Linked DNA regions of Homo sapiens: region 2 is linked to region 1. Evidence: fine-mapped expression QTL. Tissue or cell type: whole blood. Region 1 holds a variant in brackets; the other region holds the start of a gene. All regions are shown on one strand. Distances are from middle to middle.

Region 1 (10,632 bases):
TCCTGCATGCACCTGTGGCTCTCTGTGAGGGCATTACCCTCTGAAACCAACTAAGAAGCTGTCTTGCCCCTTAGGCTAGTGCTGGTAGTAGCAGCACTCATGATTTCTGAATCACCTTTGGTGTTATTCTTCCCTTTCCTTGAGAATAGTGCACATTTGCAGCTGAACAGCTCTACGTTCCTGCCCAGTAGAATTCAAGAAGTCTGAAAGCCTTCCTTCATTCTGTCTTGTCTTTCTCTGTCCTCAGTTCAAACTGGCAGTGTCTTTGTTGTTATAATTGCATTTCTATTCCTAGCTTCTGCTGAGATTGACGAATACACCCAGGAGGCGCACCCACTATTTCTTTATCAAGTGGTTCTTCAGCCATACCACCCTTCGTGTTCTCTTCAGAACAAGTTTTGTGCAGTATGGACAGGCTAAGAATTTTCCCAATCTCCATCTTCTGAAAACTTTTTCCTTAATAATTCCTTTTTCATTTCTTGCCTCTCATATTTTACTATAAGTAGTAAGGAGGACCTATGCTATATTTTCAATACTTGGCTTTAAAAATCACCTCTGGGCCAGGCACAGTGGCTCACACGTGTAATCCCAGCATTTTGAGAGCCCAAGGCAGGTGGATTGCTTGAGCCCAGGAGTTCGAGACCAGCCTGGGCAACATGGTGAAAACTTGTCTCTACAAACAATAAAATTAGCCAGGCATGGTGGCATGCACCTATAGTCTCAGCTACTCGGGAGGCTGAGGTGTGAGGATCACTTGGGCCTGGGAGGTAAAGGTTGCAGTGAGCTATGATGGTGCCATTGTACTCCAGGCTGGGCGACAGAAAGAGCCCTGTCTCTAAAAAAAGTTTTTTTTTTTTTAAATCACCTCTGCTAAATACCCAATTTCATTGCTTAAAATAGTGGTCCCTAACCTTTTCGGCACCAGGGACCAGTTTCGTGGAAGACAATTTTCCCACAGATGGAGCAAGGTGGGAGGGTGCCATGGTTTCAGAATGAAACTGTTCCACCTCAGATCATCAGGCATTAGTTAGATTCTCATAAGGAGTGTGCAACCTAGATCCCTCCCATGCACTGCTCACAATAGGGTTCACATTCCTCTGAGAATCTAATGTCACTGCTGATCTGACAGGAGGTGGAGATCAGGTGGTAATGCTCACTCAACTGCTGCTTACCTCCTGCTTGTGTGGCCCAGTTCCTAATTATCGGGAAATCTGCCCCCGATAGTCACGTAGGTTCTTTTCTATTTTCTCTAAGCATCAGCCAGGTTGAAAAATAAAGGGACAGAGTACAAAAGAGAGAAATTTTAAAGCTGGGTGTCCGGGGGAGACATCACATGTCGGTAGGTTCCATGATGCCCCCTGAGCTGTAAAACCAGCAAGTTTTTATTAGGGATTTGCAAAAGGGGAGGGAGTGTACGAATAGGGTGTGGGTCACAGAGATCATGTACTTCACAAGGTAATAGAATATCACAAGGCAAATGGAGGCAGGGCAAGATCACAGGACCACAGGACCAGGGTGAATTTAAAATTGCTAATGAAGTTTCGGGCACCATTGTCATTGATAACATCTTACCAGGAGACAAGGTTTGAGAGCAACCAACGGGTCTGACCAAAATTTATTAGGTGGGAATTTCCTCATCCTAATAAGCCTGAGAGCACTATGGGAGACTGGGGCTTATTTCATCCCTACAGTTTTGACCATAGAAGACGGCCACACCCAAGGGGGCCATTTTAGAGGCCCACCCTCAGGGGCGCATTCTCTTTCTCAGGGATGTTCCTTGCTGAGAAAAAGAATTCTGTGATATTTCTCCCATTTGCTTTTGAAAGAAGAGAAATATGGCTCTGTTCCGCCTGGCTCACCGGCAGTCAGAGTTTAAGGTTATCTCTCTTGTTCCCTGAACATTGCTGTTATCCTGTTCTTTTTTCAGGGTGCCCAGATTTCATATTGTTCAAACACACATGCTCTACAATTTTTGCAGTTAATGCAATCATCACAGGGTCCTGAGGCAATATACATCCTTCTCAGCTTATGAGATGACAGGATTAAGAGATTAAAATAAAGACAGGCATAAGAAATCACAAGGGTATTAATTGGGGAAGTGATAAGTATCCATGAAATCTTCACAATTTATGTTCAGAGATTGCAGTAAAGACAGGTGTAAGAAATTATAAAAGTATTAATTTGGGGATCTAATAAATGTCCATGAAATCTTCACAATTTATGTTCTTCTGCCATGGCTTCAGCTGGTTCCTCTGTTTGGGGTCCCTGACTTCCTGCAACACTAATAGGCCATGGGCTCATACCAATCTGCAGCCAGGGGTTGGGGACCCCTGGCTTAAAAATTCTACTTACTGCAAAATACTAGAACATAATTCAAACAAGATTTTTGCCCCTTTATAACAAGGATTGCCACCTGTTCCTCTTTTACATCTGAGAGCTTACCAGAATGGCCTTTAACATACATATTTCTACCATTCTAACATTCTATTCATGATTATTTATGTGTTCTCTTAAAGATAGATGCTTTCTCTCCTGCTCTGCTGTTTTCCCTCTGAGCCCTCACCACAATCATTCATTAAACATATATATTTCTAGGATGCATATCAAAACTTCCAGCCTCTACACTTACCCAGTCCCAAAGTCATTTCCACATTTTAGGTATTTGTACAGGAGAACCCCACACCTTGGATCCAAAATCTATATTAGTCAGGATTCTCCAGAGAAACAAAACCAAAAGGATGTATGTATAAAGATATTTATTATAAGGAATTCACCCATACAATTATGTATTAGTCCCAAGACCTACAGTCAGCAAATTGGAAACCCAGGAGAGACAATAGTTTAAGTCTGAAAGCTGGCAGACTCAAGACCCAAGAAGAGCCAACGTTTCAGTTCAAGTCTGAAGGCAAGAAAAGTCCAGTCTCCCAGCTCAATAGTTAGGCAGGAGTCGTTTCCTCTTACTCACAGTAGGATCAACGTTCTTGTTCTATTCAGGACTTCAACTGATTCACATCCACATTAGGGAGAACAATCTCCTTTACTCAGTCTACTGATTCAAATGTACATTTCATATAAAAACACTCTCAGAGACACACTCAGAATAATGACTGACCAAATACCTGAGCACCCCATGGCCCAGATTAATTGATACACAAAATTAACCATCACAGTTAGCCAATTCCCTTGATTATTCATTTTGGTAAAATGTCATGTAGATTTATTACTGAGAGACAAGAAGACAACACAACTACATGCTTTGCTGTCTGTGCATGAACTGAACAACGACCAATAAAATAAAAAAATCATCACCAGATGACTTTGAAAAAGTAATGTGATGGGTCACTGATCATGCCATGCATCTGTTATTTATAATGATGTGTGGACTGAAGAGCTAGCAGCAAACATTTTACTTTATGCAATTATTCATAATAAATATTCTGTGGTAAATTTAAAGGTTTCTAGGGGATGGATGAGATTTAACTGAAGTATGCTGACTGAAATTTTTGCATACTGGAACCATGCAAAGTGAGAACTTACTGTAATTTGCATACAACAAATTGCACATATTTAAAATGCATAATTAGATCATTTTGTCACACGTATGTATATACTTGTGGAAACCTTAACATAGTAAAGATTATGGATATATCCTTTACCTCCAAAGTTTCCTCTTGCCCTCTCCCACTATTTGTTTGTTTATTTATTTATTTATTTATTTTTTGAGAAAGAGTCTCACTCTGTCATCCAGGCTGGAATGCAGCAGCATGATCTTGGCTCACTGCAACCTCCACTTCCCAGGTTTAAGAGATTCTCCTGCCTCAGCCTCCCAAGTAGCTGGGGTTACACGCACATGCCACCATGCCCAGCTAATTTTTGTATTTTTAGTAGAGATGGGGTTTCAGCATGTTGCTTAGGCTGGTCTCAAACTCCTGACCTCAACTAATCCACCTGCCTCAGCCTCCCAAAGTGCTGGGATTACAGGTGTGAGCCACTGCCTTCAGCCCCTCTTGCTCCTTTATAGTGCTTCCCCCCACTCTTCCATGTTACCCAACTCCATGGATCCCAGGCAATGACTGATTTGCTTTCAATCACAATAGATTACTTTGCATTTTTGGAAGTTCATATAAATAAGATCATATACTATGTATTCTTTTTTGTCTGGCTTCTTCCATTCAGTATAATTTTCAGATTCACTCATTGTTTGCATGTTTAAATTGTTCGTTCTCTTTTATTGCTAAATTGTATTTCATTATACAGATATCAGGTTTTATTTACCTACTCTTGGGTTAATATTTAGATTTTTTTCTACCTTTTAGCTATTACAAATCATGTTGCTATGAACGTTTATATAAGAAATTTTACACAGACTTATGTCATTACATCTCCTGGGTATATACCAAGGAGTGGAATAGCTGGATCATATGGTAGGTATGTATTCAATTTTTTTAAAAAACTGCCAAACTGTTTACCAAAGTGGCTATAACATTTTACATTCCCACCAACAGTGAATAAGTACTCCACATATCCCACATCCCTAGCCAAAATGAGGGGGTAGTTTGTTTTTTAAATTTTAGTCATTCTAATAGGTGTGTGGTGTTATCTGGTTGTGATATTAATTTGCATTTCTCTAATTACTAATGATGTTGAGCATTTTTATATGTTTATTTGCCACCCTTTTATATTTTTTGGTGAAATGTCTGTTCAACTCGTTGGCCATTTTAAAAACTGTGTTATATGTTTTCTTATTATTGAGTTTTGGAAGTTCTTTATACATTTTGGATACAAGGCCTATACAGCTCACCATAATGTAGAATGAGGGGAGCCCTGAGCTTGTTTTCCTGCAACTAGATGGTCCCATCTGGGGGTGATGGGAGACACTGACAGATCATCAGGCATTAGATTCTCATAAGAAGTGCACAACCTAGATCCCTCACATACACAGTTCACAATAGGGTTTGTGTTCCTGTGAGAATCTAATGCTACCACTGATCTGACAGGAGGTGGAGCTCAGGCAGTAGTATGAGTGTTGGGGAGTGGCTGTAAATACAGATGAAGCTTCTCTTGCCCACCACTCACCTCCTGCTGTG[T/C]GGCCCAGTTCCTAACAGGTCACAGACCACAACTGGTACCAGTCCATGGCCCAGGGGTTGGGGACCCCTGCTGTAGGTCATATGTCTTTTTTTTCCTCAAGCTGCTTTCAAGATTTTCTCTTATTACTATTTGTGAACAATTTGATGGTGACCTACACTGACGTAGTTTTCTTCATGTTTCTTGGTTTTTGGTTTGAGTTTCTTCAGTTTCTGGGTTTAAAGCTATCATCAAATTTGGAAAAACTCAGCTATGATTTTTTTCTGCCTTCCCTTCCTTAAAGGGGTCCCATTACAAATATATTATGCTATATTTATAGTTGAATACAAGTGATGCACATCTGTTATTTATGAAGGTGTCCCACAGCTTAGTGCTGTTCTATTCATTTTTTAATAATTAATTCTTCTCTTTATGCCTTCCTTTGAATGTTTTCTATTGTAATTTCTTCAAATTCACCAATCTTTTTCTTCTACAAGATATGTCCTCTAGTTAATCCCATCTCTTGTGTTTTCCATCTCAGACATTATAGTTATCAGCACCAGAAGTTTGTTTTGGATTTCTTCTATATTATTCATTTTTTTACTTAACATGTTTGATCTTTTCTCCAGCTTTATCTTACATACAGAATACACTTATAAGAAGTTTTGGTATCCTTATCCATCAATTTTACAATTTTAGTCTTTTTTTTTTTTTGCTTGTTTCCATGCCTGCTAGTTTTTTTTACTGGGTGTCATATATTGTGAATTTTATCTTGTGAGGTGCTGAACATGTTTGTATTACTATAAAGATTCCTGGGCTTTTTTTCTGGGTTGCAGTTAAATTGGAAACGATTTAATCCTTTCAGGTCTTGCTTTTAAGATATGTCAGACAGAACCACAGGACCATTTAAGTTTAGGGCTAAGGATTCCACACTATTGATGCAAGATCTTTTAAAACATTGTACCCAATGCCCCATAAATAGTGAGGTTTTCTAGTCTGGTAGGTGGCAAAAGGCACTATTCCTATTCCTGTGAGAACTGCGTACAGTCTTCCCTCTTCTAAACCTTTTCAGTGGTTCTTTTCCTAGCCTTGGGTAGCTCCCTCATATTCATATACTGATTAGTACTCTACTGTAAACATGACAAGGATCTTCTGCAGATCTCTGGAGTTCTTGTAGTGACTCTCACCACTTCAGTACTGCACCCTGTGATATCTAGTGACCTTGGTCTCTACAGACTATCATCAATGTCTCCTCAAGTCATGAGTCTTTGAGTGCTTACCTCTGTTCCTCTTTTGTGTGACAGAGCCTGGAAAGTCTCTCACAGCAGTAAGCTGAGACCATAATAGGGCCAACCTTGTTTGATTAATGTCTCTCAGCAAACAATGTCCTTTGTTGCCCAATGCCCAATGTCTTAAAAACCACTTGTTTCACATATTCCTATTATTTCAGGCAGCAGGTTAAATTTTGTCCAGTTACTCCATCTCATCTAGAAATATAAGATCCTATTCGTTTATTTTTAATTGATAAAAATTCCTTTTATTAACTAGCCTTAAAATTCCTTAAAAAAACATTGTGATTATAATCTCCAGCACATAATGTTATCAAGATACTTTCTTTCCTCACTTATGTGGGGAATCATATATCCAAGAATTGCAATGCACTTATTTTACCATTACTCTTACATTGTGAATATAGAAAAAAATAGAAATGGGTTGGTACAGTATTATGGCCATCTTAAAAACAAGTAATGAGATGGCTATAGAGCCTTCTGATTATTACAAACCTCATTTCAATCAAGGGGAGTTAATAGTAGGAGAAAAAGTTTCTCTCTTTTTCAAGGACCAGAACTGATTTTATTTTATGAGGAAAAGTATGTGCTTTATGTTTTTTCTCATCCCGGCTCTCTCCTTAGTGTTAGTGAAAAAACCTTGTATATTCTCATAATCACTTTTCTGCCAATCTTAATCTTTGGCAGTAGTGTAGGTTTTCATTTATTATGTTTTCAAGAGTACATTCATGGGGTCAACTATGTCAGGATTGGTAGGAAGATATAATTTTTTGAGGTTTTAAAACATTATTGAAATATAATTCATTTACCATAAAACTTACCCCTTTGAAATATATAATTTAGTGCTTTTTAGTCACAAATTTGTACAACCATCACTACAGATTTTCATCACCCACAAAAGTTACCCCACACCCATTACCCATCACTACTGACTCCCCTCTTCCCCCAGTTTCTGAAAAATATGTGGACTTTGCCTATTCCACATATTTTATATAAATGGAGCCATAAAATATGTGGTCTTTTGTGACTAGCTCCTTTCACATAGCATAAGTTTTCAGGGTTGATCCATATTGTAGCATTTATTGGTACCTCATTCTGCTTCATTGCTGAATAATATTTCATTATATGAATAGATCACATTTTATTTTTCCATTCATCTATTAGTGAATAAATTGTTTCAAATTTTGAGCTATTATGAATAATACTGCTATAAACATTCATATACACGTTTTTTGTGTGAAAATGTATTTATTCCACTCTTTTGGGTATATACCTAGAAGTAAAATTGCTGAGTCATATAATAACTATAATTTTCTCAGGAACTGACAGACTGCTTTCCAAACTGGCTATACAATTTTACTTTCTCCCCAGCAATGTACAGGGATGCTAATTTCTCTCCATCTTTACCATCACTTGTTACTCTCTTTTTTTTTTTTTTTGAGATGGAGTTTTGCTCTTGTTGCCCAGGCTGGAGTGCAATGGCATGGTCTTGGCTCACTGCAACCTCCACCTCCCGGATTCAAGTGATTCTCCTGCCTCACCCTCCCATATAGCTGAGATTATAGGCGCGTGCCACAACACCTGGCTAATTTTGTATTTTTTAATAGAGACAGGGTTTCATCATGTTGGCCAGGCTAGTCTCAAACTCCTAACCTCAGGTGATCCACCCACCTCGGCCTCCTAAAGTGCTGAGATTACAGGCGTGAGCCACCGCGCCTGGCCACTGTCTATCATTTTGATTACAGCCAATCTAGTGGGCACAAAGTGGCATCTCATTGTGGTTCTGATTTGCGTTTCCCTATAATTAATGATGTTGAGCATGCAAGAAATATTTTTTTTTGAGACAGTATCTTGCTCTATTGCCCAAAGGCTTCATGCATTGTTGAGTGGTATAAACACGATTTACTAACAGCCCTAACCTCCTGGGTCAAGTGATCCTCCTGCCTCGGCCTCCCAAGAAGTTGGAACTACAGGTGTGTGGTACCATGCCTGGCTAATTTTTTTGGTTTTTGTAGAGATGGGGTCTCACTCTGTAGCCCAGGCTGGTCTCAAACTCCTAGGCTCAAGCAATTCTCCTATCTTGGCCTCCTAAAGTGCTGGAATTACAGGCATGAGCCACTGTGCCTGACCCAAATGTCCTTTTTTATTTTTATTTTTATTTTTTTTTTGAGGTGGAGTCTCACTCTGTCACACAGGCTGGAGTGCAGGGGTGCCATCTCAACTCACTGCAACCTCTTCCTCCTGGGTTCAAGTGATTCTCCTGCCTCAGCCTCCCAAGTAACTGGGATTACAGGCGCACGCCACCATACTTGGCTAATTTTTTTATACTTTTTGGTAGAGACAGGGTTTCACCATGTTGGCCAGGCTAGTCTTGACTCCTGACCTCAAGTGATCCACCCGCCTTGGCCTCCCAAAGTGCTGGGATTATAGGCGTGAGCCACCACACCTGGCACCAAGTGTCCTTTTTAATTAACCTCCCACAGCACCTTTTTATTAAAAATTCTGTAAGAATTTTACCTAACAAATATTCAATAAACACGTGATATTACTATTCTTTTTAAAAAATCATTTCTACAACATTTATTCTATTAAAGTATTTTGGAATTTGTTCAAATGTATACCCAACCTCACATATGCAGCTGACCCAGATATTCTATAATTCTTTCAATAGAATATATCAAAGAAAAAGAGTTGGAAAGAATCGTATAGTATAGGTTTTGTGTTACCTAGTACCTCTAAACAAAACTTGAGATAGTCTTTGCTCGGCACCCTAGAAATCAAAACAACTTGAAATTGAATTTTACAAGTGAAAAAGATCCTAAAGAAAACCTGGATCTTCTGGCTTATATGATACGTGATGTAATTACACATAAGGTTCAGTGACTTCTAAAATCATTTAGCTAATTATTGACATGGTTGTCACTAAAATCTAGATATGCTGACTTCTATATTAGTGTTCCTTCTAATGGAATTATTGACAAACTCAAATAATAAAAGATTTAACATGAAACAATGGCAAGGGCAATGGACTAGTAATCAGAAAATGTGCTTGTATCTTACAATATTTGGTTGAGCCTATAGAATACTAATTTAACCTCTGTACCATATCTTCATCAAATAGGAAATTCTACTAGATAATCTCAAATTCTTCCACATTTAAAAGATTCACTGGAATATAAAAAAGCATTAAGTAGACTTGGAAGTTAACCCCCAAAAAAGAGTACAGGAGCTTTAAACAACAATAAGCCAAAATCTTAGTGGAATTTTTCCTGTTATAATAGTGGGAATGCAATCAGAAATATATTCTATCAACAAGAGCAGCTTGGACTAACATAGGCAGGAAAAGAACTCAACTCTCATTACATGTTGTAATATATTGATCAATAAAAAGATAGCCGTTTCCCAACTGCACGGAGTAATATTCTGAGGAAACCAGAATGAGAAGCCTGCCAAAGATTCCACCATAGCCTCTTTTCTTTGTTATATCTACAGAGTTTATAACTCCCAGCATGTAACACATAAAGAAGCAGGAGCACAGGGTTGAAATATATATGTTGGTAGTAGACAAAGGATGGAAAGATAGGCTTGAATATATCACATATTATCAAAGCATTGTGAACTGAGATCTGACTAATTTAGACAGAGAATCCAAGACAAAAAAACCCCAAGAAGGGCCAACAAGATCCATTTAAGATAAATGTCAACAAGTATTGCAGAGAGAGGTAGAAACCTGCCTTCTAAGGTAGCACTAAGAGCACAATTTGCTAGCAGTTTAATATGAAAGTGAGGAAGTATAAGTTTTCTTCTTCAATGCTCTCTATTGAAAAAAATGCCAGAAGAACTTACTAAGTATGTAGGAAAAAAAGAAAGAAAAGAAAAGAAGAGTGTTTTGAAAAGAAACTACAGGCCGGGCATGGTGGCTCACACCTGTAATTCCTGCACTTTGGGAGGTGGATCACTTGAGCTCAGGGCTTCAAGACCAGCCTGGGCAACATGGTGAAACCCCATCTCCACAAAAAAATACAAAAATTAGCTGGGCATGGTGATGCATGCCTGTAACTTGGGAGGCTGAGGCAGGAGAATCGCTTGAGCCTGGGAGGCGGAAGCTATAGTGAGCAGAGATAAAAGGTAAAAAGACATGTAAAATAGCATATATTCTGTAAATAGTTTCCTCTGAGGAAAATATAAACATTTATTTTTCATGTGCTTGGTTATTTCAAAGAAGATGCAACAGGAAAGTCAAAGAGAGGAATTAAAATAAAATGATAACATGAATTCA
Region 2 (9,316 bases), 33 kb before region 1:
GAACAAAAGTTTAAAGAAACAGCCAAATGGATTAACATTTATTAAAAAGGCAACAGTATTTTTAAAACTTCATGGTAAAAAATACTTAATTTTATGTAACCAAAAAAACTCTTAAAATACCTAACTAGGTAACTTAATTAATCCCCCAGGAAATCAAATATATTAATAATCACTAAAACTTGATGACGTAATTCCTCTTAAGGGTCAAAATCACCATATTAATTTGTGCTAAATCATATCTCTTCTTTTGGTAGTTCTACTCAGAAACTACAACTTAAGATCCCTTCTCTGAGAAACCTTTAAACCTAAAAGTAATCAAGTTCCAAAATATACTTTCACTAATTCAAGGAGATAAGACAGAAATCCTGAACTTTCATGCAACTGTGATATCCTACATCTTGTATAGTAACACAAAAGTAGCAACAAAGACATTAACAATTGCAGTTCAAGCTGGGAATGACTGTTCTGTTTCAATTCAATGACACCACTAATGGCTTCTTAGCAGCTCCATGAAATCAACCAGCTGTCAAGTTGATGCATCAGAAGGAACAGTTATGCACTCCCATAAGAAAAAGCAACACATCAGGATGTTTGGCAAAACATCTGCTCCTTTACACTGCAGTTCTATAATAAACATGCAAACAAAGAAATGGGAGAAAGGGCAACAGAATTAAAATTCTAAGGTTTCCATTACAGTCTTATGTGCATTTTAAATGAATGGCTTATAAAAAATAAAAACAAATTTCTACCAAGTTGAATACTTTAAGCTATTCCCAATTTTTTGAAAATGCTAAATATAATTACTCAGAGACTGTTCTAGAAAGAAAAAACCTGCATAAGAATCCATCTATTCTAAAAATTGTAAATAAACAATATTCAAGTAAAATCAGTATCATAATGTTATGTATAAAACTCAAAAATTAAAACTAAAATATATCCTTCCTTCATTTAATAAGTATTTCATAAATGATGCCAGCAGTATTCCAATAAATGCATTTCCAAGACTGAAGAGTTTAGAAGTATTTTTTCATTAGTGTTTGTAAGAGTAAATGGTACTACAATTCGGCACTAGTTTAACATGTGAGAACAGTGAAGCTACTATTATCTGGATTTTAAAATATGTACCCATTCCTGTTTCTCTCCAACCATTATAAGAACACAATATTAAGTTCTCATAAATAACTTTGTATTTTTAAAGCATACAATCTGATTTTCTAAAAAAAAAAAAAAAAAAGACTCTTCATCATCGTAGGCTTAAAATAATTTTAAATTCAACCACTTGTTTCAAATACTTGTAAAAATTACTTTTTTCTATCTGAACCATACGAGTGTCTTAATGTTGTCCAAATTACTGATTATGCAGCAGAGTGACAATAATATGTACAGTGTTTACAATAGGTGTGAGACATCAAATGTACTTAACTACCATTTTCTTAAACTGCTTATCCTCTGTTGCTTGCCATTTATAATCTGCCAAATCTTCTAGTCCTTTGTTGCATGTATAATTTAGAACCATCTGTTCTATGTGCTTTTAACTATTTAAACATTTTTCACCTACCTACAATTCACATAAATGGCAGACACTCAACTCAGTCAAGCTTTCTATATAGCATATTACATGAAGCAAATTCCTGGATAAATAGATAACACCAAAGAAGACTGCTACAGAAATAAAAACTTACCATATAGAACATAAATTTCTGTGTGTTACACAAACCTTTTCAATGTATTCAGAATTGTTTCTATTAGCTTTTTTTAAGTTAATTGTAGTCAGTGTTTTTCCCTCAACCCAGAAGACAAAGAGAATGCAAATTAAATACAGACAGTTTCATGTCCTTGTTAGAAGAGATGTAAATATGCTGACTGAAAATGACTACAGGAGACAGAATTCCACTTTCCCATTCAATATACAGTGCCTCTTATTTATATACTAGTCAGTGTATCATTAAGCTTGGTCATGTGACCAAACCAACTTTTGTGAGGCGAAAAACTATGTTAGACAAGCAAATTAAAACAGTGCTAGTTTTTGTTTATCTGTTCATAATGGCTGACAAAGAGTTTATAGCTAGCGATTATAAAATAACTTTTAAAATCAATTCTGCCTCTTAAATACTCAATAATTGTTTGACTTAATATCTGCTACTAAATTTTAAAGTATCCATTATCTTAAGGTATTTTCCATAGTCATTTCTTTTCAAAATGTAAATAAATAATAGAAAAAGAAAACCCCAGAACATTTTATTAGAAACGGGGAGCCAGATAATCTAAAATAACCATACATAAATATTAACCAAGCTAATTTTCAAAAAATCCATAAGGGAGAGTGGAGCAAATAAGAAAGGGAATATACTGACTACAGATAACAGTTGAAACCTTTAAATTAAAAAAAAAAGTACACAAAAACCAGATAAATAACAAATGACGCACAAGTTTTTTACCATTTTTTGCATATAATCTTCCACCTGTTACCAAAACATACAATACGCAGACTTCGTATACTGATTTTGAGAGCAAAACACAAAAATAAGCCACACAACTTATCAGTAACCTGTAAGTTACACAATCCTATAAAACAGGAGAAAAATTAAGCAAAAAATTTACTCTTGGGAAAATTTCTCCGTAAAGTTTACATGACGTCACTGGGCCCCCTGAACATTCCCTAAACTTTGAGACTTATCCAGACACACTTCCTAATACTTCTTTCCTTTCCTCAAAAATAAAAAAGAGAGAGACTTGGGAATAAAATTGCCCAAGATGGCGAAACGCTTGTTGTTTAGAGGGCAGGAAAAAAAATGGAGGATATTGTAATATACACAAAGGGATAAATTTCAACAACTCGGCCAAGGACTGCAGCTGCTTCCCTCTTTATAAGGAAGCAACAGACAAAAGATAAATACAGAGGGAGAAAGAAAAGAAGAGAAAATCTCCCAAACAACAGAGCCAGCTCTGACTCTTCAAACACTTCCTTCCCCTTCTCAAATCCCAATTCTGGGGTTCGTGAAACTACTTAAAGGGGAGGGAGCCGCGAAAGAGAACGGGGGCTGGGGGGAGGGGTAGCGACAAGAAGATTAAAAGAGGGAAGCAGAGGAGTTGGGAGCTGGCGGTCGTTCCCGGGGAAGAACTGCTAAAACATGAGACCAAGGCACAGACCTTACTGTATGAGAAGCAATGCTCCTCAAACCTTCTGCGTGCTGACATAGACCTTCCCAGGTATCCAGATCTTTTCCCAATCCCACCTGCCCCACCCCCACCCCCGCTCATCTTCAGTAAACTCAGAGCCTCCAGCTACACACGGGAGAGCTAGAGGCCCAAGCCGGGGAGTGGGGGTGGCAGACGCAGCTCGTCAGTCCGACAGGGAAGAGGGGGCGGAGGCAAAAAAGGGCAGCAGGAGGCGGACGGGGGTGGGGGGTGATCCAGAAACTACCCCGGCAGGGAGTGGGGGAGCAGCGGATATTCCGGGGTAGGAACGGCCATCGCAACGCTGACAGAGGTTGTTTTTTAAGAAGCAAAACTGTTGGCGGCGACCTGAGCGCTGGAAGCCGAAGGGGAAGAGGAAGGAGACGCGAAGCCAGGGCGGCCGGCACAAAGGCGGCGGACTCGCGGCGGCAGCGCCTGCCCGGCCGGGAGCACAACCCACGGCCCTACTCCAGCGAAGTCCCGCACCGGCTTCTAGGAATAAAGTTTACGTTCTCCTGAGGCCGCACCCCCCACCTCCCACCCAGGACGGCACATCTCCGTGTCCTCCTCCCCCAAACTCCACTCGGGACCCCGAGAACCACCCCAGCCTTCCGGCCACCACAACAAAGAGCCGCACCGACCGGCGAGGATAAACAGCGGCGGAGGGCGAGAGGGCGGCGGGGCGAGCGCCTCCACGCAGCAACTCCGGAGTCCCCCGCTTGCCCGAGCGCAGTTTCTCCGCTGCTGTTTCCACCGGCTTTGTAACACTGGGAATTTACATCCTCACCCGCACCCCTCACGCCCGAGGATTTTAAACTCACCTTTACTCTCGAACTGAGAGTTGCGGTAGATGGGATTTTTGCCTTTTCCCCAGATGGTTGAAGGTTAAGATTTTTGGAAACCCCACCACCTCCTTATTTCTATTATTATTTCTGCAAGAAAAGTATAAAGAGAGTTGTAGTGGAGGTGAGATTTGTGATCGGGAAAGCCTTCGACTCCCTCCTTCTCCGTCTTCCGCCTCTCTCTCTCTGATTAGTTCCTATCCAGCAGCAGATTGAAGCAGGAGATGATTCTTCTCAAGGTTTGTTCAGCAGCTTCACTTCTAGGCGAAGGCTTCATGAACCAAGTGACGTCAACCAACAAGGCTTCTCTCTCTCTCCTCTCTCTAACAATGAAAGTTGCTGTTAACAAGGGAAAAAAAGAGAGAGAATTGTTTATACCATTTCAGTTCCAATAATAAATGACCTATCAGCTCCTAAAGGAGCCAAGGGAGGGGGTTGCTTCTTCTTTCCAAGAATACTGTAGCTTTGAGTTTGCACCGTTCCTTGTCCCAGGAAAAAGTTAAGAAACTTAAAATGTTTTGTTTTGCTTTTAAAGAAGACAGGACAGAAAACGGGATTTAAAACTTAGTTTTTAAAAAAACAAAAGCTACAGAGTAGGGAGCATAGGTCAACCATCTCCACCTAAATTTTTTTTGTTCCTAAACTCAGAATTCTACAACCCAACTAAATTAATATGCCAAGATTTTGCGGATGTTAAAACTCAAAAAAAGCAGTATGCAAGACGGTCCCGGGGTAAAATTCTACTGCCTTTCCACGGACAAGTTAAACTGGCTGTAATGTTTATGCACTAAGTTAAAATAAAATTTAAATAAAAGACGTTAAAATAGTCGTTTTAAAGTTATATGCACACACTGTAAAAGGTAATCTCGATAGCTTTTTTTCAAGTTTCTGAGAGATTAGAAAAAAAGCATAGCAAATTGTAGGCACTGAACACTTTTTAAAAATCAAGTTATGAGTAAGACTGGTAGCCCTTTGCTCCTTTAAACTACAAATGCAGTCATATGCTATGGTCTACCCCCAGAATCTCTTCCAACTTTGTTTTTACCCTTCCACTCCCCCAACCCCAATTCCCAAATCCTGCAACCAATCAAGTTAAACTAAAGATACAATAGGCCCCATTCCCTCCCGCACCCCATCCTATAGATTCCTAAAAACAATTTTTTTAAAAGCCTTAATCTTGATAACACTTTATTAGCCAAGAAGATACGTATTTTTTTTTTTAGAAGTTCGTTGAGGTACCGTTTTTTCCCTCCAGAACACAAGAAAGTCTCAAAGTTCATATAATTAAAAATTGCATAATTTAATTTTCAGGATGAAGAGTAAGTAAAAATTAAGCTATCGGAGAATAATTTGATCATCTATGTATATTTTATACATATGTGGATAAATGTATCTTAAAAGATGCTATTGTTTTATGTTTCCTCTTCAGCCACTGGCTGTGATTTTAATTGTGCTGGAGGATCTTCATTAGTATTAACACATGGGGAGATTTCACAAAGCTGCTTCATTAGGAAAAAAAAAAAGCTTGGCAGACTCGGTCTTTTTGCATGCACTGAGAATGTCAGCCTTACCTCGGTCATTTGTAACATAATAAGTGCAAGTACAATGATTGCAATGCAGGAGCACTGGGGGAAGGGCAGAAATACTGCCTGTCTAATAGGGATATCTGAAAAGAAGGCTGCTCATTACAGAGTAAAATGTATGCTAAAAATTAGTGAAGATGATGTCTCAGGAGACTGATGCTAAATAAATTAATGTGCTGATATGTTTTTAATTATTATTTTTGTAGTAGTTTATTTCATTCTCAGGATTCACATTGAGCAGCAAAGCTGTGCTAGCACTTATTGATTTTTTTTCCCTGCCACATTCCCGGAATACAGATTTTAATCATTTCACTACACCACACTCAGTAATTTCATTAAAAACTGGAATCTTCCATCCCCAGAAAAGCATTTAATTTCAATGACATACAATTTCTCTTTTAGCAGCAAACTGTCTCTACAGTAAAAACTGGCCTAAGGTTCAAATGCATAATTTAATCCTGAGTTTTCCATGCTCTGCATTCCTTTCAAGCTATAATTTGAGTAACTACCTAATAACTGTAATAAGGACAATAATTTCCTTATAATATATTATTAACTCATATTTAATTAACTCGGAGGCCAAGCTCTGTACATGTATGACTGGGTCAACAGTTCTATAATCTCAAAATTTACTAATAATGTTCCAGAAGAAAAATATAGATTAAAATATAAGTATGAATGCACTTAGTATCTAAGACTTCTATCCCAAGTCACATACAAAAAAGTTAATGCATTGTTCTATAATGGTGGTCATTAAATAAATAATATTTTTAAGTATGTGGAACTAAAAAATGGAATACACTGATATTTCTATGCGTAAAGTATTGAATATTAATGTTTTAACAATCTATTACTGACACTTTACCTAATCATTAGCATTACTGTTGAAAATATTTAATTTTGAAAAGATAAGGAAAAAGTGCTAGATTCAAGTTATCTTGATTTTCATAAAGAATTCTCCCAAAATATACCTCGCTTGAAATAAAGTTAAGTGGCACACTGTAACTCGAATAATTAAGAATACATCCTTTGCTTAAATACTTCAAACAATATACTGCAAAGCATGGTTCAATTTTTGGTTCCAATAATATTTTGAAATATTGGGATTGCAGATGCCACACTGGTTTCCCAAACAATGGTTTCATAATGATATGTAATTTACATTGCCTGGATTTTAGAAAAGAAACCTGTGAAAAAAAATAATTTAAAGTAATAAAATTCATTAATTTAAATTGTGGAAATATGTCTAATCTACAGAAAAAACAATATATGTAATGAAAGTGATTAACTACTATATAAAAACTCCAGTCATTCCCCTGAGTAATTTTAGAATCATAATTCAAAAATTTTTATAAGAATATGTATATGCAATTTCAAGCTGGAGCCATATACAACCCAAAGTTGTCTTTTACTTGATTGCACAAGGAAGTAACTTATAACAAAATACATCTTATCATCATCAAAAGGTTGGAAAAAAGGGGAAAAGGGGTGACAGTGAAAACCTTGATTTTAATGTCTTCTAAAGACATTTTAAAATATATTTTTATTATGAAGGGCTCGTTATATACTTCAGGAAATATGTGACATTCCCAATGGTGAAGTTATATGGAAATCAATAATTAACAAAATAGTTGCTAAATGAAAGACTGACATAGGTATCTCAAATTCATAAATATATTTCTCTATTTCAATAAAAATAATAAAAACTTTAATTTTATATTAAAATATATATTTAAAATTATTTAATGTTATTTGGTAATTCAGATATACAAATTAAAATTATTCAATTTAATCTGTATTTTTAAACTGATTCTTCTTAAAAAAAAATGATTTCCTAGAAATTTTAAACTGGATTACTCCAAGTATTTGATACCTTCTTACTAAGAAATTGTGCTTAAATTATTTTTAAAATATGATTCCTTCCCTTTTTCATGTTATCATACTTTATCATTTCAGAGATTATAACATAATCATACAGTTGAGGGGGAAAACTTCAGATAAAATAGTTGCTATAGTTATAAAATAATTTAACTCCCAACAGGACTTCGTCTTCTACCCAAGATCATCATCTGTATTAGTGCTTCATCATGTACATAATTGTGATAGAATTTAATGATCAAGCAGATCTTTTCCAATTTTAGTGAATAATTAACTCTGAAATTCTATACCTATTTACCTATCCCACAGACTATGCCACCAATATGGACTAAATTGTTGCACTTTCTTCTGTAAAGCAGCATCTGTTTTTACGACAAAGACAGAACTTCTTAAATAGGTAGATATAGAGTTGGATGGCTATCTAACTTACTACTATGGGTATTGTAGATGGTTCCTCAAAGAGTAAGAAATTGCTATGTACAGAGAATGAAGTCTAGGAAGGCTGACTACAAAGAAAAACAAACGAGAGATCTCAACAGTATAACAAGCTGGCCACTGTTATATCTTGTTTCTGTTTCAATCATTACAGCCTAATGAAGCTTTATTTGTTTTCATTCATTGAACAAACATTTGAGTGCTTGCTATATGCTACGCGCTATGCTAGAGGCTGGAAAAACATGAAAAGCTCACATTCTGGTTGATGTACAAAGTGTGAAATGCCTGGGAGATTAGAGACTCATATAAATCACATTATAAAGATACAAATAATAAAGTTTTGTGAGAATAAAGAGGATGAGGCAACTAATTCTCACTGAGAGACTAGAAAAGGCTTTATCAAAGAGATGTTATTTGAACTGCATCTCAAATACTGAGAGCTTACCAGGCAAAGAAGTTCGGGGTGGGAGGTGGTCTTCTAAGTGAAAGAAACAACAAGTGTAAATATGCAGAGATACTAGATCTGGTGTCCATCCACTAGTGAGAAATTCTGTATGCGGGAATATTCAGTATGGGGAAGGACAGAGATAAAGGAATGATAGGGATGTCATGACCAAGATGAAGGCTGGGACCTGACAGTAAAAGGCCTAAGTACCATGGTAAGGTGGTTGAATTTATCACAAGAGCCAACAAAGGCTAGCAAAGGAGTGGCATGATTGACCTTGTTTTGAGGGAACAGTAACTGTATAGGCAGTGCAAATGATAGACTGTAGTATTAAGAGATTGCTTAACAGTCCGTAAGAATGATGGTAGAGACAGTGGCATTGGAGATTTACAGCCAGATATTTCTGAGGTAAAATTTCAGTTTGGTGACTAACTGAAAATAGAATTAAGGAAGAGGAAGGAGTGAAAGAGGACTAGAGAAATTTCTGGCTTACAGTAGTTGCTGCAGTCATTAACTATGGGCCAGAATACATAAGGGAAAACAAATCATAAAGTAGTCTGGAATTAAAACCTGGCTATGACGCTTTATAGGCCTCTTTTAAAAATGGGATTATCAGAATCAACTGTAGAGATTGTTTTAAATATCTAGAATTGTCCCCAGTGTCCAGAATTCACTATGTGAATTCAAATGTCCCCAACGTCCAGAATTCACCATGTCTGGGTGGGGGGTCAAGTATTTCTTTTCTTCTTCAACTCTAAAGACGCTTCTGATAAACATCCCTGATTAAGAACACGGCTGTAAGCACAAATTTGTTAAAAAATTCAGTTGGAAAAAGAAATAAGAAAAACACAGGAAATCTTGAAAAAGAGAGCTTTGCCAGGGGTGGAGGGGACAATCATAACAGATACTAAAGCATTATAAAACCTTTAAAGCTTAATAGTTGGCACTGGCACATG

What was found. PIP is the estimated chance that this variant, and not a neighbour inherited with it, causes the effect.
Region 2: it holds the start of BAZ2B-AS1, and the variant in region 1 is fine-mapped to the expression of BAZ2B-AS1 in whole blood (INTERVAL, PIP above 0.99).

What each region holds. Positions count from the first base shown.
Region 1 is chr2:159,644,435-159,655,066 of GRCh38, forward strand. It overlaps a transcript of BAZ2B not described here. Among named protein-coding and RNA genes, the nearest start is that of BAZ2B, 33 kb to the left of the region's middle. The variant T/C (reference allele first, on the strand shown) is at 5,088.
Region 2 is chr2:159,612,244-159,621,559 of GRCh38, forward strand. BAZ2B-AS1 (BAZ2B antisense RNA 1) reads left to right here and starts at 3,051. Exons shown (of 2, transcript NR_110588.1): 1 at 3,051-3,210; 2 at 3,507-5,799. It overlaps BAZ2B (bromodomain adjacent to zinc finger domain 2B), which reads right to left and starts at 4,305. Exons shown (of 37, transcript NM_013450.4): 1 at 3,999-4,305. RefSeq lists enhancers at 2,256-2,784, 3,841-4,367, 3,995-4,074, 4,325-4,394.